4 linked regions of the Homo sapiens genome follow. The protein of the gene in region 1 interacts with the protein of each later gene in a biochemical or structural test. Each region holds a gene or a part of one and is shown in the gene's direction. Other genes may lie near its edges. The genes, in order: GIPC1, SLC2A1, RGS19 and LRP2.

Evidence for each region.
Region 2: the proteins of GIPC1 (region 1) and SLC2A1 form a complex in vitro, tested with the Homo sapiens proteins (one study listed by BioGRID).
Region 3: the proteins of GIPC1 (region 1) and RGS19 form a complex in vitro, tested with the Homo sapiens proteins (2 studies listed by BioGRID).
Region 4: the proteins of GIPC1 (region 1) and LRP2 form a complex in vitro, tested with the Homo sapiens proteins (2 studies listed by BioGRID).

Annotation. Positions count from the first base shown.
Region 1 is NC_000019.10:14,493,117-14,500,958, reverse strand, and holds the start of GIPC1 (PDZ domain-containing protein GIPC1), read left to right. Parts: upstream 1-4,831; 5' UTR 4,832-4,922; intron 4,923-7,842. UniProt on the Homo sapiens protein: May be involved in G protein-linked signaling.
Region 2 is NC_000001.11:42,955,858-42,963,422, reverse strand, and holds the start of SLC2A1 (solute carrier family 2, facilitated glucose transporter member 1), read left to right. Parts: upstream 1-4,554; 5' UTR 4,555-4,771; coding exon 4,772-4,789; intron 4,790-7,565. UniProt on the Homo sapiens protein: Facilitative glucose transporter, which is responsible for constitutive or basal glucose uptake. Has a very broad substrate specificity; can transport a wide range of aldoses including both pentoses and hexoses.
Region 3 is NC_000020.11:64,076,519-64,083,350, reverse strand, and holds the start of RGS19 (regulator of G-protein signaling 19), read left to right. Parts: upstream 1-3,832; 5' UTR 3,833-4,057; exon of another isoform or gene 4,058-4,200; intron 4,201-6,090; exon of another isoform or gene 6,091-6,124; coding exon of another isoform or gene 6,125-6,241; intron 6,242-6,340; exon of another isoform or gene 6,341-6,396; 5' UTR 6,397-6,464; coding exon 6,465-6,494; intron 6,495-6,704; coding exon 6,705-6,826; intron 6,827-6,832. UniProt on the Homo sapiens protein: Inhibits signal transduction by increasing the GTPase activity of G protein alpha subunits thereby driving them into their inactive GDP-bound form. Binds to G-alpha subfamily 1 members, with the order G(i)a3 > G(i)a1 > G(o)a >> G(z)a/G(i)a2.
Region 4 is NC_000002.12:169,352,535-169,359,554, reverse strand, and holds part of LRP2 (low-density lipoprotein receptor-related protein 2 precursor), read left to right. Parts: intron 1-7,020. UniProt on the Homo sapiens protein: Multiligand endocytic receptor. Acts together with CUBN to mediate endocytosis of high-density lipoproteins. Mediates receptor-mediated uptake of polybasic drugs such as aprotinin, aminoglycosides and polymyxin B.

The DNA of each region.
Region 1 (7,842 bases):
CATAGCCTGTAATCCCAGCTACTCGGGAGGCTGGGGCAGGAGAATTGCTTGAGCTCAGGAGGCAGAGGTTGCCGTGAGCCGTGATCACGCCACTGCACTCCAGCCTGGGCGACAGAGCAAGATTCTGTCTCAAAATAAATAAATAAATAAATAAATAAAATAACAAAACCAAAAAACGTAGAATGAAGAAATGAAAATGGGGCCAGGCGCAGTGACTCACGCCTGTAATCCCAGCACTTTGGGAGGCCAAAGTGGGCAGATCACGAGGTCAGGAGATCAAGACCATCCTGGCTAACACGGTGAAGCCCCGTCTCTACTAAAAATACAAAAAATTAGCCATACATGGTGGCGGGCGCCTCTAGTCCCAGCTACTCGGGAGGCTGAGGCAGGAGAATGGCATGAACCTGGGAGGCAGAGCTTGCAGTGAGCCAAGATCGTGCCACTGCACTCCAGCCTGGGAGACAGAGCGAGACTCCGTCTCAAAAAAAAAAAAAAAAAAGGAAACTGTGGAAGAGTCAGGTGCGGTGGCTCACTCATGCCTGCAATCCCAGCACTCTGGGAGGCCAAAGCGTGCGGATTACTTGAGGCCAGGAGTTCAAAACCAGTCTGGACAACATGGTGAAACCCGGTCTTCACTAAAAAATACAAAAAATTAGCTAGGCATGGTGACACATGCCTCTAATCCCAGCTACTCGGGAGGCTGAGGCGTGAGAATCGCTTGAGCCTGCGAGGTGGAGGTTGCAGTGAGTTGAGATCACATCACTGCACTCCAGCATGGGTGACAGAGTGAGACTCTGTTTCAAAAAAAAAATAAAGAAAATGTGGAAGTATAAGTTTGCCATATAGGGATGAAAAGGCCTTCTTTTGTTTTGTTTTGGGAGATAGGGTCTTGCTCAGTCACCCAGGCTAGAATGCAGTGGTGTGATCATAGCTTACTGTAGGCTTGAACTCCTGGGCTCAAGTGATCCTCCCACCTCAGCCTCCTGAGTAGCTGGGACTATAGTCCAGTGCCTCCTTTTCTGGCTAATTTTTATTATTTTTTGTAGAGACAGGGTCTCATTATGTTACCCAGGCTGGTCTTGAACTCCTGGTGTCAAGCAATCCACCTGCCTCAGCCTCCCAAAGTGCTGGGATTACAGGCATGAGCTAGTGTGCCCAGCCAAGCATTCTTAATATAACTTCACAGTGAGTTCTATTATATCAAAATTAAGAATTTCCCTCCAATGAAGGATATCATGGGTGAAGCAAATTTTCCCCTGACAGAGTGGGAGGACAAATATACAATGTGTAAAACTGCACCTAGGTCATCAGGAGAGTTACATGGTTTAATAAATAGGAAGTTCTTGGAATGATGCCTGGCACATAGGAAGCTGTAGCTCATAGCTCACTGTAGCCTCGACTCCTGGGCTCAAGTGATCCTCCTGCCTCAGCCTCCCGAGTAGCTGGGACTACAGGCACACAGCACCACACCCATTTTTGTAGAGATGGAGGTCTTGCTATGTTGCCTCGGCTAGTCTCGAACTCCTGCCCTCAAGGGATCCTTTCAGCCTCAGCCTCCAAGTCACTGGGATTAGAGGCTGCAGCCACTGCACTCAGCAAAACAATGATGTTCTAACGCACACAACCTTCCCTTCTGCATGTGTTAGCTGGCATTCAAGGATGGAATTTTTTTCTTTTTTCTGTTTTTTCTTTTTCTTTTTTTTTTTTTTTTTTTGAGACGGAGTCTCGTTCTGTTGCCCAGGCTGGAGGGCAGTGGCGCAATCTCGGCTCACTGCCAGCTCCGCCTCCCGGGTTCACACCATTCTCCTGCCTCAGCCTCCTGAGTAGCTGGGACTACAGGCGCCCACCATCACACCCAGCTAATTTTTGTATTTTTAGTAGAGACGAGGTTTCACCATGTTGGCCAGGCTGGTCTCGAACTCCTGACCTTGTGATCCGCCCGCCTCACCCTCCCAATGTGTTGGGATTACAGGCGTGAGCCATTGCACCCGGCCTCTTTTTTCTTTTAAAGGAACAGAGGTAGCGCTCACATCTAAGCTGCTCACCATTGGACTTCCCAGCCTCAGCTTTTAGGCATTCCTCTTGAGCTATAAAATCGGGAAGGAGGGCTGGGCATGGTGGCTCACACCTGTAATCCCAGCACTTTTGGGAGGCCAAAGAGGGAGGATGGCTTGAGCCCAGGAGTTCAAGACCAGCTCTGTGCAACATGGTGAGACCCTGTCTCTATCAAAAAACAAACAAATGGGCCTGGCACAGTGACTCATGCCTGTAATCCCAGCATTTTGAGAGGATGAGGCAGTTGGATCACTTGAGGCCAGGAGTTCGAGACCGGCCTGGCCAACAGGATGAAACCCTGTCTCTACTAAAAATACAAAACTAGCCAGATGTGGTGGCGGGTGCCTGTAATCCCAGCTAATCAGGAGGTTGAGGCAGGAGAATCGCTTGAACCTGGGAGGTGGAGGTTGCAGTGAGCCGAGATTGCGCCATTGCACTCCAGCCTGGGCAACAAGAGTGGAACTCTGTCTCAAAACAAACAAACAGACAAACAAAGGAATAGACTGCGTGCAGTGGCTCATGCCTGTAATCCCAGCATTTCAGGAGGACGAGGCAGGTGGATCACTTGAGGCCAGGAGTTCGAGACCAGCCTGGCCAACATGGCGAAACCCCGTCTCTTTTAAAAATACAAAAAATTTAGCCGAGCATGATGGCGCACGCTGTAATCCCAGCTACTCAGGAGACTGAGGCGTGAGAATTGCTCGAACCTGAGAAGCGGAGGTTGCAGTAAGCTGAGATTGCACCACTGCACTGCAGCCTGGGTGACAGAGTGAGGCTCCGTCTCAAAAAAACAAACAAACAAACAACAACAACAACAAAAATTAGCCAGGTGTGGTGGTACATGCCTGTGGTCCCAGCTACTCGGTAGGCTAAGATGGGAGGATTACTTGAGCCTAGGAGGTGGAGGTTGCAGTGAGCTGAGATCCTGCCACTGCATTCCAGCCTGGCCAACGGAGCTAGACACTGTCTCAAAAAAAAAAAAAAAAAAATTCAGAAAGGAGGTGCCCAGTGCTGCTCTGTGTCTTGAGCAATCCCACAATCCCATCACCCCTTCTCCGGGCACTTCCTCATCAGGAAACAGGAGCCAGTTGGAGTCTGGCTCAGGACTCTGCAGCCTCAGTCATGCTGTCCCCTGGGCTCAGCATCCCGTCCTCTCCAAGTGTGCAGGGGGCAGCTTAGATGCCAGGCTCAAGCAGGGCAGGCAGCACAGTCCCACAGAGGGTACTGGCCAGCCCAGGCAACTGATTGCTCAGTGGGATGGCAGAGGTCAGCAGAACAGGAAGGGACGGACAATAGCTGTGCCTGTTGCCTGGCCTGCCACAGCAATCTCGGTGTTTGCCAGCTGGGTGGGGCTGGCTAGGCAATCCTCAGCAGCAAAGCTCAAGGTTCCATCTCCCATTTTAGTTTGCCCCTCTGCAGGTCCTGGTGGGACTGATATGCACAACATCTCACCCTGGGAACTGCAAAGAACCAGTCTTTCTATGGAGCTTGAGCAGGGTCTCAGCACTTAGAGGCTTCCAGGAACTACAGTTCCCAGAACACACAGCATTCAGCCCCAGTTGCTGTCCAAGTGGCTGGGTTTGAACTAGAACAAGGAAATCTCACTTGTCCCGGGAACTGAGCGTCCTGGCCTGGTCCAGGTGCATTTGTGACTCTTGTTTCTTGGATCTGTGTCCACCTGATAAATCCCCCTTCCTTATAAACTACATGGTCTATTTGTCCACACAGGTTTGCTGAGAACCTGCCGTGTGGCAGCCTGAGGTGGGAGTGAGGGGTTGACAAGAGAGACTCAGCCTCCACCCTCACAGTCAGATGGAGGAGACAGATCTATGAAAGGCTGGCTGGGTACCTTCTGTGACCTAGCACATAAACAAACCAACAAGCAGATAAACTATCTCACCCTTGTCTTTCATTGCATCTTGCCTTTCCACACTGATTTACTAGCTCCCACGATATTGCAGTATCCTAAAGCGTGCTGTATCTCTCTGTCCGGCTTTTGCACGCTCTGTTACCTCTACCAGGAGCACATTCAGCTTATTCACTGACGCGTCTTCAGAGGTAGGACAGAGTCTGGCACGGAGCAGTCTGGCACATTAAATATTTGATGAGTGAGTGAACGAATGAATGAATGAATGCCTTTGTCCATTGTACAGCCCAGGAAGCAGGGAAACTCGGGACCCTCCCTATTCATCTCGATCCCCCGCCCGCCCCCAGAGATTGAATGCATCTTTTTATCCGCTCCGAGGATGGCCAGGCTGGGGCAGAGGAGGCCGGGCAGGGAACTGGGTTGGGGACTGCCATTGACCCCCACCCAGGTCTCCTAAACTGTCCGCTTTCCTGGACGTCGGAAGTTCGAATCCTTTCCCCGAAACCTGGCCTAGGTCACCTGACTCCCCCGCCCCTCACCACCCAGGGCACCCGAGACTGACACTCAGCCGACAGCACGTGGTTCAGGGGCCCCAGCTTCCTTCCCATTGGCCGCTTGTCTCCTTCCTCCCTCGCGATTGGCCGGGGCCCAGCTGCAGCTCCCCCCCCTCCTCAGCCCTCCGGTGGTACAGCCAGCCGCGGCTTAGGCGGGGCGGAACGGTCCACTGCTTCGCGGCGAGGGGAGGAGTCGGGAAGAGCCGGGCGAGGCGGAGGGATCCCTCTGGAATGTTTCCGTCGGGTCCACCCGAAGCGGAAGACGCGGATTGGCTGCGAGCACCGAGAGGCAGCCGCTGATTGGCCGGCCGCGGGCGTCGGCCCCGCCCCCCAGGCGCCGCTGCGGGAGAGGCCCGGTCTGGAGTTTGCGGAGGGCCGAGCCGGGTGCGCACGGGGAGGCGGAGGCAGCGGCGGCGGCGGCGGCGGCGGCGGCGGCGGCGGAGCAGGTGAGTGGCCTCTGCGAGAAGGATGTGTCTGCTCCGGGGGCCTCGGGGGTCGCGGGCCTGCGAGGATCCGGCCGATCCTGCAGGGTGGGGCCGGCGCCGTGGACGCGACTGGAGGTCTAGGCTGCGCGCGGGGATGCCGGAGGCCCCTTCCCAGGGGAAGCGGGGGTGGGGGGTGGTGGGGGCAGCTCCCTTCCTGCTGGCGGGCAGGGGACAAACGCCTCCCAACGCTGGGCTGGGGTTTCTGGGCTTGCCCCTCCCCCCGTCCCCCGGCTGGACTGTCCCCATCCCAGCGTGGACAGGCGCGGGGTCAGTGTTTCTGACCCTTTCCTGGGCACTTCCCCTGAGCTAACCGCGTCTGAACCCTCCAGGGCCTTGGGGGGGACGCAGTGAGGACCACGGTCTGAATAATAATCGTCATGAAAAACTCCACCTCAGCTAGCATTTATTGGAGAGCTTCCGTGTCAGGCATTTACCATGAGGATAATTGACTCTAAACACCTCATGGGAGGTGCTGTGCCTTCTTGTAAAAAAGGTGAGGCAGCCTACCCAGAGAGGTGGAGTGACTTGCCCAAGGTCACACAGCTAGTAACTGGCACATCTGGGACTGGAACTCATGCCCCAGGGTCCAGAACTGGAGTCACACCCACTAGACTGGATACCAATAACTCCACGGCTCAGTTGTTGCTGAGTAGCTCCGGCCCCCTACCCCTCCCACCCCCTACCCCGTACTCATCATCAGGGCCACACCTGCTGGTCTTTTGCTTTACCAGCCACTCAAACAGGAAGCTGCCCTCCTTTCCCTTCTCCCCAGAGCTGGAGAGGGCAGGTCTAACTACCTGGGTCCAGAGAAGAGAGTGGCGTCTGCAGGGGGCCAGGATGCTGGGGTCTGGGCCCACTGGGTTCCCCCCTGGCAACCTGGGCCGAGGCTGGGAAGTAGGCGTTCTCCCCGGAAACACCCAGGAGCCGGTTTTTCAAGAGTGAATCAGAGGCCTCTTTCCCTCCTTCTCTCCAAAGCAACACTGTGCTGGAACGGGGAGCCTGGGCGTGGTTTCCCCCTTCCCCTAGCTTCTGTGTGCTCCCAGGAACCCCCTTCCCCTCCTCCTGCTGGCCACACTGCTTCTGTGTGGCCGTGGGGTTGCTAAGTTTCAGGCCCTTCCCAGGATGAGGGGGTGAGGATGCTGAAATTCCAGCCCAAACACTCAATATCCGGGCTGAAGTGGCTCTTCATCTCTGTGTTCAGGTGTGAGGGGAGCCAGGGAAAGTGGGGAGCCTAGGACAGTTGGCAACCGCACAGCAGGCATGTTTAGGGGGCTGTTTCAAGGATGGGGAGCACAGAGAGCAATCAGAACGAGGACCTGAGACACATTCATTCACTCAGTCTACAAATATTTAGTGAGCACCTGCTACGTGCATGTGCTAGGCACTGTTCTTGGCACAGAAAATGCAACAGTGAACAAAACAAAATCCCTACTTTTGAGGAGTTGGCACTCTGAAAGGAAGGAAGCAGCCAACAAACAAGTTAGCAAGTAAATAAAGAAGATAATTTCAGATGGCACTAACTGCTATGAATAAAATATGAGCGGGTGGTACTGTAGAGAGTAGTTGTGGGCAAGGGGTGCCAGCCCAGCAAAGATCAGGCAAGGGGGCCCGGGCGCGGTGGCTCACGCCTGTAATCCCAGCACTTTGGGAGGCCGAGGCGGGTGGGTTGCTTGAGGTCAGGAGTTTGAGACCAGCCTGGCCAACATGGGGAAACCCTGTCTCTACTAAAAATACAAAAATTGGCTAGGGGCATGGCTCACCCCTGTAATCCCAGCACTTTGGGAGGCTGAGACAGGTGGGTCAAGAGGTCAGGAGTTTGAGACCAGCCTGATCAACATGGTGAAACCCCCTCTCTCCTAAAAATATGAAAATTAGCTGGGTGTGGTGGCGCACGCCTGTAAGCCCAGCTACTCAGGAGGCTGAGGCAGGAGAATCGCTTGAACCCGGGAGGCGGAGGTTGCAGTGAGCTGAGATCGTGCCACTGCACTCCAGCCTGGGCTACAGAGCGAGACTCCATCTCAAAAAAAAATAAAAATAGGCCAGGCGTGGTGGCTTATGCCTGTAATCCCAGCACTTTGGGAGGCCGAGGCAGGCAGATCACCTGAGGTCAGGAGTTCAAGACCAGCCTGACCAACATGGAGAAACCCTGTCTCTACTAAAAATATAAAATAAGCTGGGCGTGGTGGCACATGCCTGTAATCACAGCTACATGGGAGGCTGAGGCAGGAGAGAATCGCTTGAACCCGGTAGGCAGAGGTTGCGGTGAGCCAAGATCGCGCCATTGCACTCCAACCTGGGCAACAAGAATGAAACTCCGTCTCAAAAATAAATAAATAAATAAAAATAAACAAATACAAAATAAAAATACAAAAATTAGCCGGATGTGGTGGTGCGTGCCTGTAATCCCAGCTACTCAGGAGGCTAGGGCAGAAGAATCGTTTGAACCCAGGAGGTGGAGGTTGCAGTGAGCTGAGATGGCGCCACTGCACTCCAACCTGGGTGACAGAGCAAGACTCCATCTCGAAAAAAAAAAAAGAGAGAGAGATGGGCAAGGCCAAGGTCTTTAGGCTGGACCAAGTTTGGAATCACATGGTTGGAGCAGAAGATGAACCCAGAGCAGCGATTCTGCAGGGGTTTGTGGGTCACAGTAAGGAGATTGCAGTTTTTCTTCCAGAAGGTGGGAAACTGTTGTAAAGTTTCAGGCAGGGCAGTGATGCCATCTGGTTTACGTTTTAAAATAGAGACATGAAGTTAAATGACAGCCTGAAGCTGGAAGACAAGAGTTCTGCCAGGGCAGCATGCAATTAAGTTCATGGGCCTGAGCCATCTGTACCACAGGGGCAGTTCCAGCATGCTGGGGCAAGCCTGGGAGGCTTCATGG
Region 2 (7,565 bases), on another chromosome or scaffold:
GGAAGGGATGGGCAAAGATAATGAGTTCAGGTTTGAGCATGGTGAGTGTGAGGGACCTGTGGGACATCCAGAGGGACATCCTGGAGGCAGCTGGACAGAAAAGCCTGGTAGTCAGGAGAGAAGGGAGGGGAGTATGTGCCTTCAATTCCCCCAGCATCAGCGAGCAGGTGGTAGCCCTGATAAGTGCATTTGCAGAGGGTCGGAGGGCATACAGAAGATAAAGAAGGGATGCCGAAAAGCTTTCTGAAAGCAGGTGGTTCAAGCAGATGTGCAAATCAGAATGAAAACATTAAACACACAAAACTGTCCTGCCTGGCCCATCAGACCTTCCTGGAATCCATCACTGTGTTTACCTGCAATCCAGGAGGATTTGAATTGCAAAACACCCTTTGGATTAGGGGGGCTTCCGTCCCAGCCCCTGCTATCCCCTCTTGTACCAATTGTAGCTGACTCAGCAAAACCTTTCCTCCTGGCTGCCAGGGACGCTTGCCTTTAAAGGCAACAGAGTCTTTTCCCAGCCCGCCTTACTCACTCCTAACTCTGGAGCTGCTAGGACCCGCCCTGCACGGCCCTGCCACCACCACCATCACCACCACCACCCCTCCCCCACCCACTTGCGTGCTCTGAGGCACACACTAGGCTCCAGCATCCGCCTGGCACCTGACACCTCCCTGCTAGCCAGTCCCAGAGAGCTCTTTTCCTCCAGACTAGCTGGGGCTGGAACTGCTTAGAATCGGACCCAGAAGAGGCCGAGTTCCGTCCAGGACTAAAGGCAGCCTCCAGGGAATAAAGCTGTCAGTGTGGGCGCAGACTAGGGAAGGGGCACTAGGTCGTTCAAGCTGAATGCTGGGGTTCCACAGCCTCCTCACACCCCCTTTAGTGCCTCAGGTAGAGTAGGCTTGTGGGGACACTGAGGTTTCCTCAGGTCCTTTCCCTGCTCAATAACTCTCCATGGCTCGCCACTACCCACTGCATAAAGCCCTAACTCCTATACCTGGCATTTGGGAGCCTCTGTGATTCCACTTCTTCAGTCTCTTCTCCTCCCTAAGCCCCCATGCCCCAGCCACAGGGGCTACTTAGGTGCCCCTCCTGCTCCCCTTTCCCCTTGCACCCAAACCTTCTCTGCTCATGTGCTATTTCCTGGGGCCTTCTCTAGGGCTCATTCCCTAGTTGGAGTTAAATTCTGCTTCCAAGGAATCAGCCACCCAAATAACAAACCAGTCCACCTGAGAATCTAGTCTGTGATGCAGCGTCAATAGCTTCTGATGAATTTGCTTCTGACCAGTAGCCTCCAGGGGTCATAAAACATTCACAGAGAGGAACACAGAGAAGGTAATGGGGGTCTGTGTGTGGGCAGGTGGGGTGGGGTGGGTGAAGGAAAAGCTTTTTTTTGGCCACTGTGCTTTTTCCTCAAGCACCGCCCTACCATGGGATGGGGATTTGACTGAACTTCTCACGTCAAGAATGAGTACAGTTTACATAGCTAAGCCTTTATAAACATCCACTTTCCCTCAGGCCTACCCAGGAAGGGTTTGTTATATCTATTTTACAGATGTGGGTCTTCAGGCTCAGAGAAGAGAAGGCATTGTTTGCCCATGAATGTTTGCAAGTAAATAGCAGAGCTGGGACTCAAAGAGTCCGGATCTGGGGCTCCATCATGAATCTCTAAGAGTGGCCCAGAGATTCTCACGTTCCCTAGGTAATCATTCTGGCAGTCTGCTGCCTTTGCACATGCTCTTCTCTCTGCTGAGAATGGCCTTCCCTCAATCCATCTGGTGAACTCCTATTCAGTCTTCCAAACCCTGCTTAGCATGACCTCCCCCTTCCCAGATGCTCTCTCTACTCACTCTCCTTCCCCTGTGGTACAAGTTCTGCACCTGTACAGATTCTTAACCCTCTACGCTTGACTTGGTATTGTTGCTGCTCATTTCCCCTCTTGCTCCTCCTCCAGCTTGGGGCCTCCATGAGGCTAACAATGGGGTCACATGTCTCTGTCCCTGGGAAAGTGGCCAGCATGGGGCTGGCCCAGAGAAGGACAAGGTGGCTGTTTGGTGAGTGTGACCCATGGGCTGAGTAAGGCAGACCCGCAACTGGGAAAAGGCATAGACTGGATGTGCTAAGAAACAAGGAGCTGTGGAGAGACTTTGAGGAGGGAAGTAGCAAAACCCAAAAGGTACTTAAGGAAAGACTGGAAGTATCAGCAGGACGGACTGGAGGGGAAGGAACATTCAACACAGGTAGATTAGCTGCTCACTCATTCGTGCATTCCTTCCCTCCTTCAGTCATTCACCCACGTGCCTCAGCTGCAGAACCTGTCCTCAAGGTGCTCACAGGCTGAGGGAAGGCAGACAGAGGACAAGTGGCAACCTACAAAACACCAAATGGTAAAGGAGAGAAAGATTTCCACTTGGGAGAACCAGGGACACTTCCCGGAGGAGGAAGGACCCATGGTGCTTTTTGGCATGGTGAGGTCGGGGAGGGCTTCCCAGGCAGAGGAGACAAGCTGAGCAAATGTGTGGATGTGAGTTGCTGGTGTGAGGGGCGAGGCTGAGCGTGTAAACTGGTGCCATGAAGAAGGACCGTGATGGCCAGGCTTGGCCCTTACTCCCTCCATGACAATTTCAGACAGATGAGCAGGAGAGTGGCAGGGTGCAGGACTGGAGGACAAAAGACCAGAGGAGATGGAGGCCCTGCAGACAGCAGGGGAGGGAAGGAGGATGAGGTGGTGTAGACAGCGGAGTCAGCAGGACTTGGTCTGTCCAGGGGTGAGGAGAGAGGTGGCCCAAGCTTTCCAGGCTGAGCATAGAGAGACCACAGGAATTGAAGCCTTGGGCAGGGGGGTGCCCAGAATGCACCTGCCTTCTGTTTCAGGGCTCCATACTCAACCAAGGTGCCCCTCAGCCAGAACTGGACACATTGCCAGAGAACTCCAGGGGTCATCTGGTCGGCTCAGCCTCCCGGTTTCCGACAGACAGTAAGCCCACCATGACTCCCTCCATCGGGAAAGGGACCCTCAAGACTTTGATCAGACCTTTGGACTGGGGGTCCTTCCCTTCACTGTGTCTCAAGTAAGGCACTGGTCTAGAGGAAATAAGGTGAAGTCAGATGATAGCAATACCACTACCAGTGCAGTGGCACATGCCTGCACTCCCAGCTACTACGGAGGCTAAGGTGGGAGGATCACTTGAGCCCAGGAGTTTGAGACCAGCATTTATTTATTTACTAACAGACTAAATAAATAAACCAACAATACCACCAACCAGTAAATGAGAACTTCCATGCTAAACACTTCATGAGCTTATCTGGAAATTGCACCTCTCCTGATAGCAATGAGATTGGTGTGGGAATTCCATTTACTCATAAGAAGACAGCCTCGGCCGGGCTCAGTGGCTCACGCCTGTAATCCCAGTACTTTGGGAGGCGAGGTGGGTGGATCACGAGGTCAAGAGTTCAAGACCAGCCTGGCCAAAATGGTGAAACCCCGTCTCTACTAAAAATAAAAATAATTAGCCAGGGGTGATAGCGGGCGCCTGTAATCCCAGCTACTCGGGAGGCTGAGGCAGAGAACTGCTTGAATCCGGGAGGCGGAGGTTACAGTGAGCCGAGATCGTGCCGCTGCACTCCAGCCTGGGCGACAGAGCGAGACTCTGTCTGAGAAAAAAAAAAATTAAAGAAAAAAACGAAAACAGCCTCACTGGCCAGGAACTCGCCCAGGATCGCGGCCGGGCCAGTATACAGTTGAGCTGGTTCAAACCCGAGGTCTATCATGTCCTTAATGTCCTATCATGTCAGTCAGTTAGCCTGCCTTTCATATTTTCCACACTTACAGGTCACCATAGACTCACCTGAACTGTGAGAAGTAGAGGAAGGCGTCCCAGAGGAGGTGATTTTAAAGCCCAGGTTTGAGATGGGTATGCATTTCCAGGCAAGAGAGCCCGGCCGGTGCAAAAGCAAGGCTTGGCTCACAAACGGGAATGTGGGGGGTGGAGACAGGGAAGGGAGAAGTCAATCCCTGGGCAAGACCTCCTGGAGTCTCTCTAACAAATAAATACTACTTTCCATGCAGTAGACGCTGTTCTAAACACTTTACAAATATTAACTCACTTGGTCTTTCTACAACCCTACGAGGTGGTACTGTTACTATCCCTAGTGCACCGAAGTCACCCAGCGGCCGAGTGAGAACTCCAGTCCAGCTTTCCACCCGCTACTCCGCGCATCCCAGCTTGCCTTACAGCCGGGTACCGGCTCCACCATTTTGCTAGAGAAGGCCGCGGAGGCTCAGAGAGGTGCGCACACTTGCCCTGAGTCACACAGCGAATGCCCTCCGCGGTCCCAACGCAGAGAGAACGAGCCGATCGGCAGCCTGAGCGAGGCAGTGGTTAGGGGGGGCCCCGGCCCCGGCCACTCCCCTCACCCCCTCCCCGCAGAGCGCCGCCCAGGACAGGCTGGGCCCCAGGCCCCGCCCCGAGGTCCTGCCCACACACCCCTGACACACCGGCGTCGCCAGCCAATGGCCGGGGTCCTATAAACGCTACGGTCCGCGCGCTCTCTGGCAAGAGGCAAGAGGTAGCAACAGCGAGCGTGCCGGTCGCTAGTCGCGGGTCCCCGAGTGAGCACGCCAGGGAGCAGGAGACCAAACGACGGGGGTCGGAGTCAGAGTCGCAGTGGGAGTCCCCGGACCGGAGCACGAGCCTGAGCGGGAGAGCGCCGCTCGCACGCCCGTCGCCACCCGCGTACCCGGCGCAGCCAGAGCCACCAGCGCAGCGCTGCCATGGAGCCCAGCAGCAAGGTGAGTCGCGCGCCCGCGGGCCCTCCCGCCAGGAACAAAGGCGCAGACTCCTGCCCGCCTTACGCCGGCCAGGGCCTCCCCCGCCGCCCCGCTGCGCTGTGCGCCCGGGGCGGGCCGCGCGCCTCTCCGAGCCTGGCTCGGTGCGGGTCCCGAGCGCAGCGCCCCGCCGGGCCGCTGGCCGCAGTGGGGATGGGCTTCGGATCTAGCGGGCCGGAGGGCGCCGCGTGCGTAGTTGGCGCCGGCACTGAGCACATGGCCTCCTTCCGGGGGCGCCGCGCCGTCCACGCGGCCCTGCTGGGGCTGGGGACACAGGGCCCGGGAGCGGCACGTCGCACACGACCTCGGCAGCAGCAGCCCAGCCTCGGCCCCTCCCGGTGCGGGGGAGGGGGCCCGAGCGCGGCGCCCATTGGCTGAGCGGGCCGAGCCCCCGGCCCGGCCCCGGCCCCGGCGCGCGGAGGAGTCAGGAGCCGCCCCCGCTCTCCGTCTGCTCCCCTAGCCCGGACGCCCCTGTAGGTGGGCGGCCTGGTGCGAGGTGTCCCACCGGCCTCCCCTACTCCTCCCGCCAGTCCCCCGCGGTGACGAGGCCGAGGCCGAGGGGAGGGCACTTTTCTCCAGGCCCGGGCTCGAACGCGGGGGTTGAGATGAACCTCCGGTCTCGGAGGCTCTCCTTTGCGAGGAGTGCAGGCCCCAAAGCTTTGGCCCAGTCTCGCGGAGATGTGTTCCGCGGAGGCAGGTTTACCCTCGGGGCCAGGCGGGGAGCGCAACCGGAGGGGCGGGGGATCTGGGGGCCAGGAAAGAGCCCCAGGCTGAAGTCTAGCGGGAAGCGCGCACGCCACGGGGTTGGGGAATGAGGGATGGGGACTCTGGGGACCAACAACTCCCTAGATAGGATTTCTTTTTTTCTGTGTAAGTGGGCTTGTCCTGCAGGGCATCTTTGTAGCGTCCGCAGAGCGATTTCTTTTCAACAAATTGTTTGTGGAGCCCCTCCTGTGTGTAGGGCATTGTTTCTTTCCACCTCCTTTCCTCCCCCTAGTCTACAATATTTTCAAGTCCCCTTTTTCTTTTGAAACGGTCCCTCTTTATCTATTATACTTTGATTTTTCCATCTCGTCAGCTGGGAGGGCACCTGGATGGCCCTTGTTTTCTTAGCTGGGACGCGGGGGTAGCACTGAATTTTGAACTGCCCTTCCTACTGGCTGTGGAGGTGTCCCGCTGAGACTGAGCGGGGTGGCGCTGGGCCGCACCCTCGGCAGGAAAAGGCCTTCCGCCCCACACCTGTTGAATCCATAAATCCAGACGACTTGGTTCACCCTTCCTGGGCCCTCGCTTGAGGTGAGACCCCGGGGAAGTTCCCGGGGAAGGCTCCCAGGATCTTAGGTGAGCCGTAAGGGTGGGATATAACTAAACAAAAGTTCAGTGAGAAGCTCTTCTAGCTAGTGGCAAGGAAGTCCAAATATCTCAGGGCTCTTGCAGGCCACTTAACTTCTGGGCCTCAGTTTTTCCATCTGAAAGAGATCACTTTTGTCACTTCCTCTAGGGAAGGAACTATCTATTCAGCATACTATGCCAGACATGGGTATTTATTTGTTGAGTGGATAAGGGAATACTACGTGGAGACAGAAAAGTGGAGGAGAAAATCAGCAGGTTCTTAGCCAAACTACTTTAAGCGTCACGGACCTTATAGCCCTGCTGGTTACTCACTAGCCTGGAGCTCAGAGAAGGGAAATAAGTTTGCCAAAGTCACACAGCTAGTAAGTGGTTGAACTGGATTTGAACCCAGGCCCATCAGATTTAATTTCATTTCTGTCTCCACTGTCTCTCTTCACCACAACATTTCTTGAATTTTGGGCAGAAGGGAGAGAGTTTGCCTATCTTCAAAGGTGGCCCCTTGTGCCAGCTGGTTCTAAATAGTGTAGCAGGTGGGTGCTCTTCATGGAGTGTTCTCCAAGTTTTCCACTGTCTACCTCGTCAGTAATTAATGTTGGAACACCTCTTTCACAGTGGTGTATCTGTATTTTTATTTTTTTATTTTTATTTATTTATTTTTTGAGACGGAGTTTCGCTTTTGTTGCCCAGGCTGGAGTGCAATGGCGCGATCTCAACTCCCTGCAACCTCTGCCTCCCGGGTTCAAGCGTTTCTTCTGCCTCAGCCTCCCGAGTAGCTGGAATTACAGGCATGTGCCACCACACCCAGCTAATGTTTTTTTTTTTTTTTTTTTTTTTTTTGTAGTTTTAGTAGAGACGGGGTTTCTCCATGTTGGTCAGGCTGGTCTCGAACTCCCGACCTCAGATGATCTGCCCGCCTCGGCCTCCCAAAGTGCTGGGATTACAGGCCTGGGATTACAGGCGTGAGCCACCACGCCCGGCTGTATTTTTAAATTCATGCACATGCAGTTTGATACTAACAGATGATATGCCTTCATAAAATAGAAATTTCAAAAGACAGATAGATACAAGACAGCAGTTATAGTCATTTTCCCCTCCAAATCTTGTGTAGATCATTCCATATACATTCTGGAATAAAGCCCTTCCCTTTGGAGACTGCTGATTTGACCTGCAAGCACAGCCTTTTTGTGCATGATGTTAGAGGCCTGGGGAGGTCATATCGCTTGCCTTTCACACAAGATCTGAAAACCAGGTGTGTCTGGCTCCAAAGCCTTGGTTCTGCTATGTTCCTCTTTGTCTCCTAGGAAATGGGAACTGACTTAACTAACTTCCCCGTGTTCCATTGTGCTCCTCTGTAACTCACAGTAATGAGCTTAGCTGAATAGGAAGT
Region 3 (6,832 bases), on another chromosome or scaffold:
TCCCCAGGACCCCGAGGGAAGCGGGGAGTATGGACGCTGCCTCTCCCATGCACCTCACAGACATCAGGGTACAGAGAGTGGGGCCTCTCCCAAAAAAGTGGGGAGACGCAAGTGGGTGGGTGTGAAAGTAACAGGTCAGGGACACGCCTACCCCTAATCCCGATCTGCCCCCCACTGGCAACCTGGCGTTCTGTGGGTCTATGGGAGGCCCCCAGTCTTGGGGAGGACGGAGAAAGAGCCTGTTTCAGCAGAAGTCACCCCCAGATGTAAGGGTAGCCTCAGGCTGCAGTGGTCTCGAGTGCGAGTCATCCCACCAGGGGGCCAGGGAGAGGGCAGTGCTGTGGGCAGCGGAAGTGACCTAAGCTGGCCTTTGAAGAAGCAGCAGCTGTGCCCAAGAGGACCAAGAGACTGGGCAAGGGGAACCCCTGCGGCCCCCAGACAAAAATCCCACCCTCTGGCCTTCCTTTCCATCCTGAATAGCCTCCTGTGACCCCTTTAATGCCCCATGCCACACCCCCACACCCACCCCCCCACACACACACACCCCACACACACTCACGCATGCAGTACAAAAGGAAGCCACCCCTGTCCCATTCTGACAAACAGGCCCACGACCTACAAAATCCCTGGACTCTGAAAAGCCCCGAGGTTTCTGGGCAGACCTTACTTTTCTCCCCGACGTGAGCTCTTTGCAGACGCTGGGGCTTCCCTAGGCCCCCGCTTCCTTTTCCTCCCTCCCAGCCCCCTGCCCAGCAGGCTGCACAGAAGCGGGACCGCAGGAACTCAGACAAACCGCTCCTCCTGCTAGGGGGCTCCAGCTGACTGGAAGGAGGGGCAGAGGTCAGAACTGGGGTCCAGAAGGGATCCTGCTCCATGGCAGCCAGTGTTTCTCCCCAGCCCCGGCCAGGGGGTGGAGCCCTGCGCACTCGCCCCTCAGCCAGCCCTTCTCCCCGTGCACCGAGCACTTTACTCTTTCTGGGCTGTTGCTGCCCTTGGCCTTGACCCAAGCCCAGACTGTATACAGAGCTCAGAAGTCAGCTGACAAGGAGGGGACAGAGAGATGGCAGGAGGGGTTTCAGGAAGGGAAGGGTAGAGAGGAAGGAGGCCAGGGAGAAGGGGCTTGAGCAGGGGCAGACAGACAGGGAAGGGAGGCAGTCTGTCCAGGAGTGGCAGCCACTCACACCCTGATGTGCTTGTGACATGTGATGACAGCCAGCCCTGGTGTCGTCTGGCCAAACTCCCTGCAGCCTGGACCCCAGGATTCTGTGTCTTGGGGATTGACTGAGTGCCTAGAATGAGTTCATCTACTGGGAGAATCACATATTATTTCACCATTTCTCTGAGACTCCATTTCTTTATCTTTAAAATAAGGGTCTTGGTGCAGTACCCCACAGCAGCAAGTGCTCCAAAGGGGATGGGTCACTCTGCATCAGACAGGCAAGAGGGAAGAGGGGCAGAGACAGGCACAGCAGACCCAGCACCCAGAGAAGGCCAGCAAGACAGTGACCTCAGTGACTGCACCAGGGTCAGGCCGGCACTCGGGCCCTTTGATCCCCATGAAAAGGCGCAGGGGGTGCTGGATGTGCAAAGGAGGCTGGGGAATGGGGCCTGGAGGGACGCCTGCCTGTAGAAAGCTCTATGGGAAGGAAGGCATGTGGTCCAAAGCCCAATATATTGAGGGCTGTCAGGGCGCAGAGGGTCCTGGGTTCAAATCCCAGCTCCGCCATCAACTGCCCAGCTCACCTGGCCCCACCCATGGACTTCAGGATGCTGTGTGCCGAGAGGCAGAAGCCAGGGCGGTGGAGAGCAGGCCCAAGGGGCCAGAGGAGACGGGGGAATGACTGGGGGGTTGTAGAGTGACCCGAGGGGGCAGGGAGGGCACTGACCTTCACCCCCTGCCAGCTGCCCACAGCTGCATTTTCCCACAGCAGAGACAACAGGCCGGCTCAGCGGGGTCAGCCTGGTTGTGTGTGGCCTGGGCCAGGTGCTGGCCCATCTTCGTTGAGCTTCCCTGACCTCACCTGTGCCCACCGCTCAGGAGTGTTATGTGGGCTGAATAAGTAGCAGCCTGCCTCTTGTCCCTGTGGGCTTCCTGGCCCCTGCCTTTCCTTGCCTGGCCTGACAACATGGCAGTCACAGGGTTCTGGGTACAGCTTCGAGAGGCAGCCTGTCTGTCCTCCAGGGCCCTCTGACCTCTGACCTCCCCCTTCGGGCCCCCGCCCCCGCTCAGCAGCGCAATACCCTCCCCTCCTCAGCCCTCCCCCCTCTCACCCAGGCCTTCCCTGCCTGCTCCCCACAACTCACTCTGCGCCCCCCAGCATAAGATCCAGGCTGATCTATGTTGCTGGCTTCTGGTCCTACTGCCTGGCCCACAGGGGCACCCAGATACTGATACTTGTCCGTTGAATGAGGAATACAAGTAGAATCTCCAGCTGCCTTTGCACCCCTCAGAGTTCTGTGAAGGTGTAAGGTGTGCACCTGACCTGTGCAACTGGAAGGCATTTTATGAACAGATCCCGACACTGGGAACTATCCGGGTGGAGTGCTTGTGCTGGGGAGGACAGGAGCTGCACACAGCCGGGCCAGGGGAGGGGCGGGGGGCACAGATGCTCTGCAGACACTTCCAGAGCAGGGTCAGGGCCACCCTGACACAGGGCCAAAGCATGCTGCGATGAGAAGCCTAACCCACGTCTGTACCGAGTCATAAAGGATGAGAAGAGTCGGCCAAAGGGACAGGGCGTTCGTGGCAAAGGGGACAGTGTGGCCTTAAGCTTTAGGACATCTTGGGACACACGGGTCAGCAGGGACTCTGCCAGGCCCCACAGGAGACATTCGGCATGACTCCGGATGCAAGAACCCGCACCCCCAGTTCTCCCCAGCCCCGCAGCACAGGAATCTCCCCCTTCCTTGGGAACCCCCCACAGCACAGACAGGCGGCTCTTAACCCAGTTTTACAGACGCGGCTCACGGAGGCGAGGGGTGGGCCGGGCTGGCGTACCCGCCGATCGGTCCTTTGCAGCAGCCTCCTCTTTCCCAAGCTGGGCAAGCAGCATATGGGGCCCAGCTCTCGTGCCTCCACTGTCGTGGAAGTCCCACACGGATGGCAAAGCAGGAACGGCCCCGCCGAGCAGAGTCGGGGGCCACGGCCACACCCCCATCTACTACCGTGCGGCTCCGTCCGCCCGGGAGCCAGGGCTCCACTATGAGCACCTCGACTCTCCGGGCCACCCCCAGGCGACTGTGGGGGCCGACGCGCGGGCGGGGCGGGTGGGGTGCGGAGCCGGCCGAGCGCGGGGCGGGGCGCGGCGGGCGGGGCGGGCCCGGCGACCGCCGGCGCGAGGAAGTCCCGGCCCCTGGCTTTGGGGAAGTGCCGCCGAGGCGCCTGCGCACTGCGCCCCCGCGCCCCCTCCCCGACTGTCGGGCCGGACCTTGGAGCGCGCGGGCCGGCGGCGGCGCGAGTGGCTCGGGAGCGCGGCTGGTGAGTGCGCGCGCGCAGCGCCGGGGACAGCGGCCCTGCCCCTCCCGGCCCGGGCCCGGGGACCGTGCTGGGCGGGAGCTTCGGGAGCCGGCGCACGGGACTCGAACCCCAAGGGCTCCCGCCGCCAGGTCCACGTGGACCCTGGGCCGCAGTGGAAGTGGAGCCCGCCCCCCGCGCGTGGGGGAGGGGGCGCCGCAGCCGGGTTCCCCTTTTTCTGGAGCTCAAAGCCTGGGGAAGTGATTGCTCAAAGGTGGGGGCCGGAAGAACCCAGGTTTCCGCGTCTCCCTCCCCCTCTCAGCCCGGTGAGGAGGGGCCGGGGCGGGACACCCTGTCCGCCCCCGCCCCCACCCCGCTGGATCTGGCAGCCACTCAGCCCTTCGAGCTGTAGGGGAGGCGCTGCGCCCCCGGCCCCAGCCGATCGGGGGCTCCTGGCGCTAGCCTCCCTCCAGAGCGCCGCAGGAGTCCCTCCTGCCGTCTGACTTGAGTCCCTGCTGCTGCAGTGCACGCCCCTTCGGCAGCCAGGGTGGGGCCCAGACCCAACCTGGCCCCTCCTGCCCCCACCCCGCCTTTGGGTCGCTGGTGAGTAGGGAGCTTTGAGGTAGGGGTGGGGGCGTCAGAGGCTGAAGAAAGAGGCACCTGGAGGAGAACACAGGCTTCTCCAGACTGGACCCTAACAGCAGAGAGAGGAGCGTGGTGGGTGGGCCACCACCACCATTTCAGAGGTGGGGAGAGCTGGCCTTCCCTGGAGGGGCCAGGCCAGGGCTCGCCCACCAGCCAGATGTGGAGGGTGGCAGATGGGAAAGGCCCTGGGTAGGAGCTAAGGACTGAGAATGGAGCCCCTCTTCAACCCCCCTCCCAAAGGTTATGACATTTTTTTCTGGGATTGTCACATTTTCTTATTCTTTTTTTGGACTGGGCAGGCTCTGGGACGTTCTTTTTCCTTCTGTGGAGCAAAGCGGCAGCCACTCCCAAGGGATCCTCTATCCCCAGAGAGCAGACGTGCCGCCTATCCAGCCTATCCCATCCCAGACTTGGGGGCCAAAGCCTGGGAGGCTGGGGAAGGGGGTCCCCAATGCCAGGTTGACAAGCAGGAGGACCCTAGTTGAGACTCTGTATCCCCCAGGAGAGACGGGGGGAGGGTAGCCTGGGGACATGGGTTGCCCCAGTTGACCTGAGAAGGGTACAGGAAGCCAGGTCCAGGGACAGGTGACCAGGTCCAGGGCCTGCAACTGGGAAAGAAGGGGCTGGCTCCCTGCTCTGCAGCAAATGCAGCCCCTAGCACCCCGGCCCTGCACCCCTAAACACGTCCCCTCCTCCAGTTCAGAGCTGGGGTGGAGATGGTAGCCCAGGGGGACAGTCTCAGGGGTGCTAGAGTGTGGGGGAGGACCCTGGGTGGGGACAGAGAGGAGGAAGAACTGCTGCCTGGGGAAGCCACAGACAGCCCCGTCTGGGTACAGCTACCAAACCTCAGGTTGCCACGCCCCTTCCTTTCCCTAGAAACTTGACCCCTGAAAGAAAGCCCAGCTGCAGGGCTACTTTCGGTCTCCTCATCTACTTGCTAGGAGCCCGTGGGACCCCCAGTCTCAGAGGAAACTGGGCCGGTGGTGAGGGGCCAAGGTCCCAGGGGATGCTGCACCTGCCCCAGACTTGGGCCAGGGCAGTGGCCTCTGCATGCCCAGGCCTCGGGGGTATTGGGGGCCCTAAGAGTGCAGAACTCCAGCACTGTCTCTTCTGAGGGCCATTCACACACCGTCCCAGGAGGCCAAGAGAAGCCAACCAGCCAGAAACAAGCATTCAAAGGCCACGAGCTAGGGGAGGCGTGGCGGGGGGATGAAGATTGAGAAAATAAAGTAGAATCAAGTTGTGAGCTTCCTGGCCAGGGAGGGTGGCGGCACATGAGGAGGGTGGCGGATGTGCACGGAGGCCCCTCCCTGCCCTGGGCAGAAGTGGGCGCAGGTGTTCACAACTGCCTCCGGGGCACTGATTGGCCCCCCTGTACCATCGCCCAAGGAGACTTGGGATTCGAAGTGGCATCTTAGGTGGCATGAGGGCCACTCACAGCTTTGGCGCTCCTGGTGCACCTCCCCTGCAGACGGTGCAACCAAATGCTGGGAGGGACATGCACCACACCACACCCCCCTCAGGGACTCCGAGGCTTCGACTGGGGAGCAGGGTGCCCCCCACCCCTGCCACCCCCACTTCCCTGGCTGGCGCACCCTGTGGTAGGGCCTTGGTTCCACAGCAGTTTCACAGCCTAGAGGCAGTGGGCAAGGAGGGAGGGAAGTCTTGGGTGGGAGGTAGCAGGACCAAAGAACCATGTTTGGGGGGCATGTCCCTCCTCACCGGGGCCCTGCCCCCCTTCCCACACCCTCAGCAAGTCCAGCCTGAGTCCCACTTAAATCCTCACTGCTGCAGGTCTAGCCTGCTGCCCCTGGCTGAGACCTCTGGGACCCACAGACAGACCTGGACTCTTGGTGGGAAGCCACTCTGCCCACTCCCCACCCCAGACACCCTAGAAGCCAGTCTGGCCACCACCCGCACGCACCAGTTGGTAGCCCCAGACTCTCGGGGCCCCTTTGGGAGGGGCTGGGAGCCGGAAACCAAGAAAGAGGAACCCAGGCTTCCGGCTTCCCAGGGAGTGAGCGGATGGGGGTGTCTCGGAACCTCCAGTGGGGGCCTCATCTGGGGCCCAGCCTGGGAGGAGGGGCCAGAAGCTGCTGCAGCTCCCTCCTCAATGATCCTGGACCCCCTCCCAGCCCTGCTGTAAGCTTGGGGTCGGGGTAGAAGCCCTAGGCAGAGCTGGGTCCAGAGGCAGGAGCAGGCCCCGCTAGGGAGACACCCTCTCAGGACCCCTCCTAAGGGGTAGGCAGGGGCTGGGGTTTCAGGTTCTCAGTCAGAACCTTGGCCCCTCTCCCCAGACCCCCAGGCTGTGGTGAGGGTCTGAGAGCTGGTACCACGGAGCCTGGGCAACCTCCTCCGCCCACCCATGCCCACCCCGCATGAGGCTGAGAAGCAGGTATGCCACCTCCCCCTCTGCCTCTGCTCCCCTGGGGGAGATGGGGTGGGGCAAGCTGAGGGGCCACAAGGAGCTGGGAGATCCCTGAACACCCGGGAGGCCAGAAGGGTCATGTGCCTGGGAACAGGGCTACCCATGGGAAGGTGGGGGAGAGGTGGAGAGTCTGGTGGGTTCTGACCTGAAAGCTGAGGTAGCCCCACTTTTCCCCAGATCACAGGGCCAGAGGAGGCGGACCGGCCCCCTTCAATGTCCAGTCATGATACAGCCTCTCCAGCGGCCCCCAGCCGCAACCCCTGCTGCCTGTGCTGGTGCTGCTGCTGTAGCTGCTCCTGGTGAGT
Region 4 (7,020 bases), on another chromosome or scaffold:
ATGAAGTAAAATCCAATGAGATTGTAACAGCCTTTATTTAAGCACTACCTTTTAGGTAGGCTACCATTGCAAACTTCGCATCACTAAAAATTGGAGGGGAAAAAAAAGAGCTCTGAGTATTCTATGTTTAGTCTTTGAAAAAAATTATACCACATCTGTTGTTAAAAATTATTTGCATTTTCCTTATCTTTTGTGTAATGCTTTTCAAGAAAAAACATTTTGCAGAGTCTGAACTCGAGTCAAGCTGTTGGGTTCCAACATTGGCTTTACCACTTTCTAGCTGTGTGACCTTGGGAAAGTCAACCAACTTTGCATAGCTCAGATGGCTTATCTGCAAAATTGACAAGATAATAAGAGAATTTACCCAATGACATCTTGTAAGCATAAAGAGATAAAATATGCCAAGTGCTTAGCATGGTGTAAAGCATATAGACAGTGAAAATAAACTAGAAAATAATCTAAAAATACAATATTTTTATTATATTTATCAACCCTTAAAGTAACATATTGTTTTGCTTCCTATTCCTATTTCCATTTCCAATTTTCAAATATACAAAGGAAAGTCTTCTTTAAGCATTTTTCACTAACAGTTCTCTGAAGACTTCTCAGACCCTAGCATGTGATTGGAAGATTTTTTCTTTTTTTTTTTTTTTTTTGAGAAAATCGTATTGGCCTTAAACAAAGTTGTATTCTGTTTACTAATTAAAAAAACTTATTTTTCAAAAATAGAAATGGGGTCTCACTGTGTTGCCCAGGCTGGTCTTGAACTCTTGGCCTCAAATGATCCTCCTACCTCTGCTTCCCAAAGTGCTGACATTATAGGCAGGAGCCACCTTACCTGGTCCAACATTATATTCTTTAATCCAATAAAAATGTGGTAATGTTTTTAAGAGTTAGTATCAGCTTTTATGACAATTACATCTTCACATGAAGTTTATATGTTTAAAAGGATTGTGGGGGCAATAGCAAACTTGTATCGTTTTTATTCCATCACAACTCTGGAACCTCACTGCTGCTTTAATTTCACAGTTGTTGGCTTCTCTTTCTCTACTTGAAAAAGTTTCTCTTTACCAGTCTTCATAAGACTTCTGCCTGAACTCCCTTCAGTCATGCACCTGTCTCATTTTAATAGAAACTCAGACTTTTTACAGCTAGAGGGAACCTTAGATATCAACTGGTCTGCTTGCATTTTTTTTTTCTTACAGATAAGCAATTAGCCCAGGAGGGAGAAGAAAGGGGCTGAGAGGATGAAAGGGAAGGCGGTTAATAGGTTTCTTGCCTAAGGACATCTAGCCTGTGACAGAGCTAAGATATAAATTTGCAGTGGACCATTTTTTAGATTCATGCCTTCTGAATGTCCCCAGCCTGTTTGGTTGGTTGAGATTTCTAGATTCCTTTTGGAATCCTGACTTGCCAGATAAGGCACAGTCTGATAAGCAGATGAATCTTAAAAACAATTGGATGGGTTACCTGTCCCTGGCCAAAGAGGAATCCTGTGATAGGTTATTACAACCATGTACCATGCGCTTTCAGCTTGGTCCAGAACTGATGCCATGTCAGTGCCCCTACTCCCAAAGACCATACCTCCAGATCCATTTTTCAAATTCTTGAGCCATCAAAGCGCATTCCTGAAGATCTTTGGGTTTTGTAGTGCAGGCTGCTGTAAGACTAGGTTTTCAGTCTTACTAAAGGTAATTATTAGGTCATAATCATTGTTCATGTTCTCTAGTCAGGCACTGTAAGAACACTGAAAGGTTTTTAAAATATTTAAATTAAAATTTTAAATTATCATTTAAAAATAATGATACCAGGAACCTAGATGTATTTCCTGTGTAATCAGAAGCAAGTGCATTGTCATATTGGCTTTGGAGTTTCTGTTAAGTCCTAGTAGCTAGAACAAGGTAAGTAGAAAGTAGAAGGTGCTGAGCTGGGCGTGGGGGCTCATGCCTGTAATCCCAGCACTTTGGGATGCTGAGGCGGGAGGATCATGAGGTCAGGAGATCGAGACCTGCCTGGCCAACATGGTGAAACCCTGTTTCTATTTAAAACACAAAAATTAGCTGGGCGTGGTGACGCACACCTGTAATCCCAGCTACTCGGGAGGCTGAGGCAGGAGAACTGCTTGAACACAGGAGGCAGGGATTGCAGTGAGCTGAGATTGTGCCACTGCACTCCAGCCTGGGTGACAGAGCAAGAATCTGTCTCAAAAATAAAATAAAATAAAATAAAATAAAATAAAATAAAATAAAATAAAATAAAATAAAAATAAATAAAAAAGAAAAAAAAAAGAAAAGAAAGTAGAAGGTGCTTATGAAAGAGTGTTGAATGGATAGGAAAGGGGTTCTCAAGGTTGACTGCACGAATCTAGAGCAACTAAAAAAATACTAATTGTGAAGCCCTATTCTAGCATGGAAAAAATAAGCTTGATGGAACCTTTGGTATAAATCAAATGGTTCTATCGTATCCTATTAACTTTATAGTCTTGAGTAATTAAAAATTTTTACCACTATTGTGTATTCTGTGAATGTTTATTTTATTTTTTCCATGAATATTTATTAAATATCAACAGTGTGCTGATGAGTCAATAGTATCAATACTACAGAAACATTAAGGAAGATGAGAACTGAAAAGAGGTGTCTACATATCTCGCAATTAAAATGGACTGCAGTTTTGCATTTAAGATTCTGAAATAGTCATTGACTCATTCCTAATAACCCTGCCCAGGATCTCACCAGCATTAGAAAGATTGGAGATGTTTCAGCATCCGAGTTCTGGGATGCTTCTTGATAATGATCAGCTAGTAGTTGTTTTGAAATGTCAAGAGCATTTCTGTGGTTCTTCACATGTTCCTAATGCAAATGTTTCCGAAGTAATTTCTTGACAGTTACAGTGTTTTGAGATGAAGTGGGAAGGGCTTGTGATTTTGAAGTTGGAGGATCTTGGTTTGATTCCTACCTCTGCCATTTATTATCTGGGAAATCCAGTACCACACATGCTGGGTGCTCTGGGGCAGTTTTCTTATCTGTAAAATGGACATATATCTACCTCACGGGGTGGTTATGCAAAGGCAATGAATGTGAAATGTTTAATAAACTGTGAAGTCTCATATAGATTTCCATTCATCATTATTACCCAATACGAGAATTTTACTTTTTCCAAACTTGAGAGGAGGAAGATGTTGCAGTATTTTGGTATCTTCTTTACCGTGGGTCTGAGAATGATGCACCTGTGCATGTTGTTACATCCTTACAGTGGCTACCACAACTTCACATGTTATTCAGTACTGTTATGTTGGTGAATGTCACAAAACTAAGTTAAACTGTCTGAGGCAAAAAAGGAAGGTTATTGAAATACATAGTTGAGGCTGGGTGTGGTGGCTCATGCCTATAAATCTCAGCACTTTGGGAGTCTGAGGTGAGCGGATTGCTTGAGCCTAGGAGTTTGAGACCAGCCTGGGCAACATAGTGAGACTCCATCTCTACAAAAAATACAAAAAATTAGCCAGGAATGGTGGTGTGCCCTTGTGGTCCCAGCTACTTGGGAGGCTGAGGTGAGATGATCGCTTGAGCCCAGGAGGTCGAGGCTACAGTGAGCTGTGATCATGCCACTGCACTCCAGCCTCAGCGACAGAGTGAGACCCTGTCTCAAAGAAAATAAATACATAGTTGAAAAGATACAGATAATTAGGTTGATCCATTTGAGATTGATTTTTTTTCCTATGCAGAAATAGTCAAATATTGGCAATTTCATTTGGTTCAACCTAATATAAAATGGAGGCTCAAACTATGTCAGGCCAATCTTGTCTTTTTTCCGTCTCCTGGCTCTGAGATGACTCCATTCTTAAACATGTTCTCCTTTGATGTAAAGCGGCTGTCAGTGGCTCTGGAGCCACCTCCTATCAGATCACATCCACTGGGAAAGAAAAAGAGTTTTTATCTTAGCTATTCCCAGCAAAAGTTTCAGTTGCATCTCAGGGTCTCTACTTAGGTCATAAACTCATTGGAGAACCAACCACTGAATCCCGGGTCATGATGTGTTCCCATGGCTTAGGCTTGGGCTGTATACTCAGTCTTTGAGATCATGTATGAAGGGGTGGAGTCCAGAGAGAAATGGGGGTAATTATTGGGAGAATGGTGAACAGAGGCTGGGATGCAAAAATAACAGGTGTTCAGTATACCTTATCAGATAAAATTGACTGACGATGTTATTTTCATTTTGTATGTGAAGACACACTTGAAAAAGCTACAGAAATTTCTCAAGAGCTGGCAGCCCTGGGGTAACTTACAGAATTGAAAGGAATAAAGTATTGGAAACATTAAGAAAAAAGACATGGTGATCTGTGCCCATGTGACCATGTTGCAACTTTAAGTTTAGAAGGAGAACAGGAGAAAGAAGGACTTTTAGAAGGTTTATTTGGATCCTAAAGTTTTCTTATTTGGAGCAGAGCTTTGTGATAGACAGGAAAGTTCTGGAAAATGAGCTGAGCGATCAGACTACAGGATCCCTTAAGTCTGGTGCAGTATTTCATTTTTCTGTGAATCTTAGGCTCCTACTCCTTTTCCAATTTACTTCACTCCAATGTTTATGTTCCTAAGAGTTTGTCTGTTTTCCAAGCACTAGTCCTTTGCTATAAGGATGGGGTAGAGAGAAAGAAGCTTAAAGAGTTTGCAGACAGGTTAAGATGCTTCTGTGGAGACAGAACACATCTTGGTGCACATCTGAGTGTCCTTAGCACTTCATCTATGGACTTCTTTCATAAATGGTAGAACACGTATCCATCACACCTTATTGGATTAATTCAGAAATGCCAGATATATGTACTCTTTGCTGATGGTTACTTTGTTGGTCTCTAATTTAAGTCTTATCTCTAATCACATTAGCTGAGAAAATGGAGACATTATCATTCTAAAAATAAGATGGTTAACTTTTATATTAGGACACTTCTGATTTAGGATAGCACTGAAATTCAGTGCAAAGAAATGTAAGTCTTTCCTAGATAATGACAGATTAGACAATTTGAAGTTTCACTTTTGGTCATTAGCCCTCAGGTCATGCCTGACCTCAAGGTTACTGGAAACAGTGAGAAATGAATGAAAGGAGGAAATGTAATTACCATTCTGTGCATTGAATAGTTGAGCCACTGTTACCATGGATACAATGGCGCATTTATTGTCCAGATCTTGAGATCCAAGTTTGTAAGCAATATCCAAGGTCTCCTTTAAATTTATGTACTATCAGCGAATAACACATGAAGATTCCTGGTAACTTTGAAAATAAGTCTTTCCTCACTGATCTACTGATTCACATTAAGTAAGAGCATGTGTACTTTTGAAGGTGTTGAGGAAACCTGAAAAAGACGAAAAGGAAAGTAGCTACACTTCTGTTATGCTGGACATTCTTGGATTCCTCTATAAAAATATTCTGTCTTATACTGTCAGTGATTTGCTTGTCACTTTGGGCCCAGTTCTTTGGTTTTTATGTCATTAACAAGGAGAAAATTTCCTGAGTAAAGGTTGAAAAAATCAAAATCGTTTATTTTTATTTTTTGAGACAAGGTCTTACTTTATCACCCAGGCCAGAGAGGGTCTCACTTTATCACTCAGGCTGGAGTGCATGGCTCCCTGCAGCCTCAACTTCCCAGGCTGAAGAGATCCTCTCCGCTTAACCCCACAAGAAGCTGGGACTACAGACACATACCAGCACTCACAGTTAATTTTTATATTTTTTGTAGAGATGAGGTTTCTCCATGTTGTTCAGGCTGGCCTCAAACCCCTGAGCTCAAGTGATCCTCCCGCCTCAGCTTCCCAAAGTGCTGGGATTATAGGCGCTAGCCACCATGCCCGGCTGAAATCATTTATTTTGTCAGGAAATTCTTAAAGTTGAATTTAAGAATGAAAGTATTTTATCAGAAATATGGCAATCCTACCCACATTTTAATCTCACTAGAAGGGGGGTGATACATGCTAGCATGTACTTCCACACTGGTTTAATTTTGATGTGGGGAAGGGTGTGGAGAATACTTTTTGTTGCAAGAAACAGAAAACCCAACTCAAAATGGCCTACACAATAAAGGGTATTTCTTGGCTTATGTGAGTAAAAAATACTGAGGCAGAGTGGGGTTCAGGCGAGGTGCAGTCAGGGCTCCAGTTCTCTTTCTTTGTGTTTTCCTTGACCCTACTCCCCCCTAAGTTTCACCTTTGTGTGCGGTCTGGCTTCCCATATGATTCTGATATGGCTGCCAGGGCAAATGGGGCTACGTGTTTCCTTGATCCTATCCAGGGGGAATCCAACTTTGAGAAGGTTTTAGTTATGTTCTCAAAAGTATTATTTCATCACAATAACTTACAGATTGTTAGAATTTCTAAGGACCCTAGACAAAGTCAGCTAGCTCCCCAAACTTGACATATCATCAAAATCACCTGAGGAACTTAAAAAAGTATAGAGATTCTTAAATCAAAACTCACCCTTACTAAAGCAGGGGTATGAAAATCTGTGTTTTTTAAAAATTTTATTTTATTTTACTTTCAGTTCTGGGATACATATGCAGAATGTGCAGGTTTGTTACATAGGTATACATGTGCCATGGTGGTTTGCTGTACCTATCAACCTTTCATCTAGGTTTTAAGGCTCACATGCATTAGGTATTTGTCCTAATGCTCTCCCTTCCCTTGGCCCCCACCCCCTGACAGGCCCCGGTGTGTGATGTTCCCCTCTCTGTGTGTGATGTTCCCCCCCCTGTGACCATGTGTTCTCATTGTTCATCTCCCACTTATGAGTGAGAACATGCGGTGTTTGGTTTTCTGTTCCTATGTTAGTTTGCTGAGAATGATGGCTTCCAGCGTCATTCATGTCCCTGCAAATGACATGAACTCATTCCTTTTTATGGCTGCATATTATTCCATGGTGCATATGTGCCACAACCAACCCAAATGCCCATCAGTGATAGACTAGATAAAGAAAATGTGGAAAATCTGTATTTTTAAAAGTTTCAAGGTGATTCTGAGGGCTGGACCAATTTTT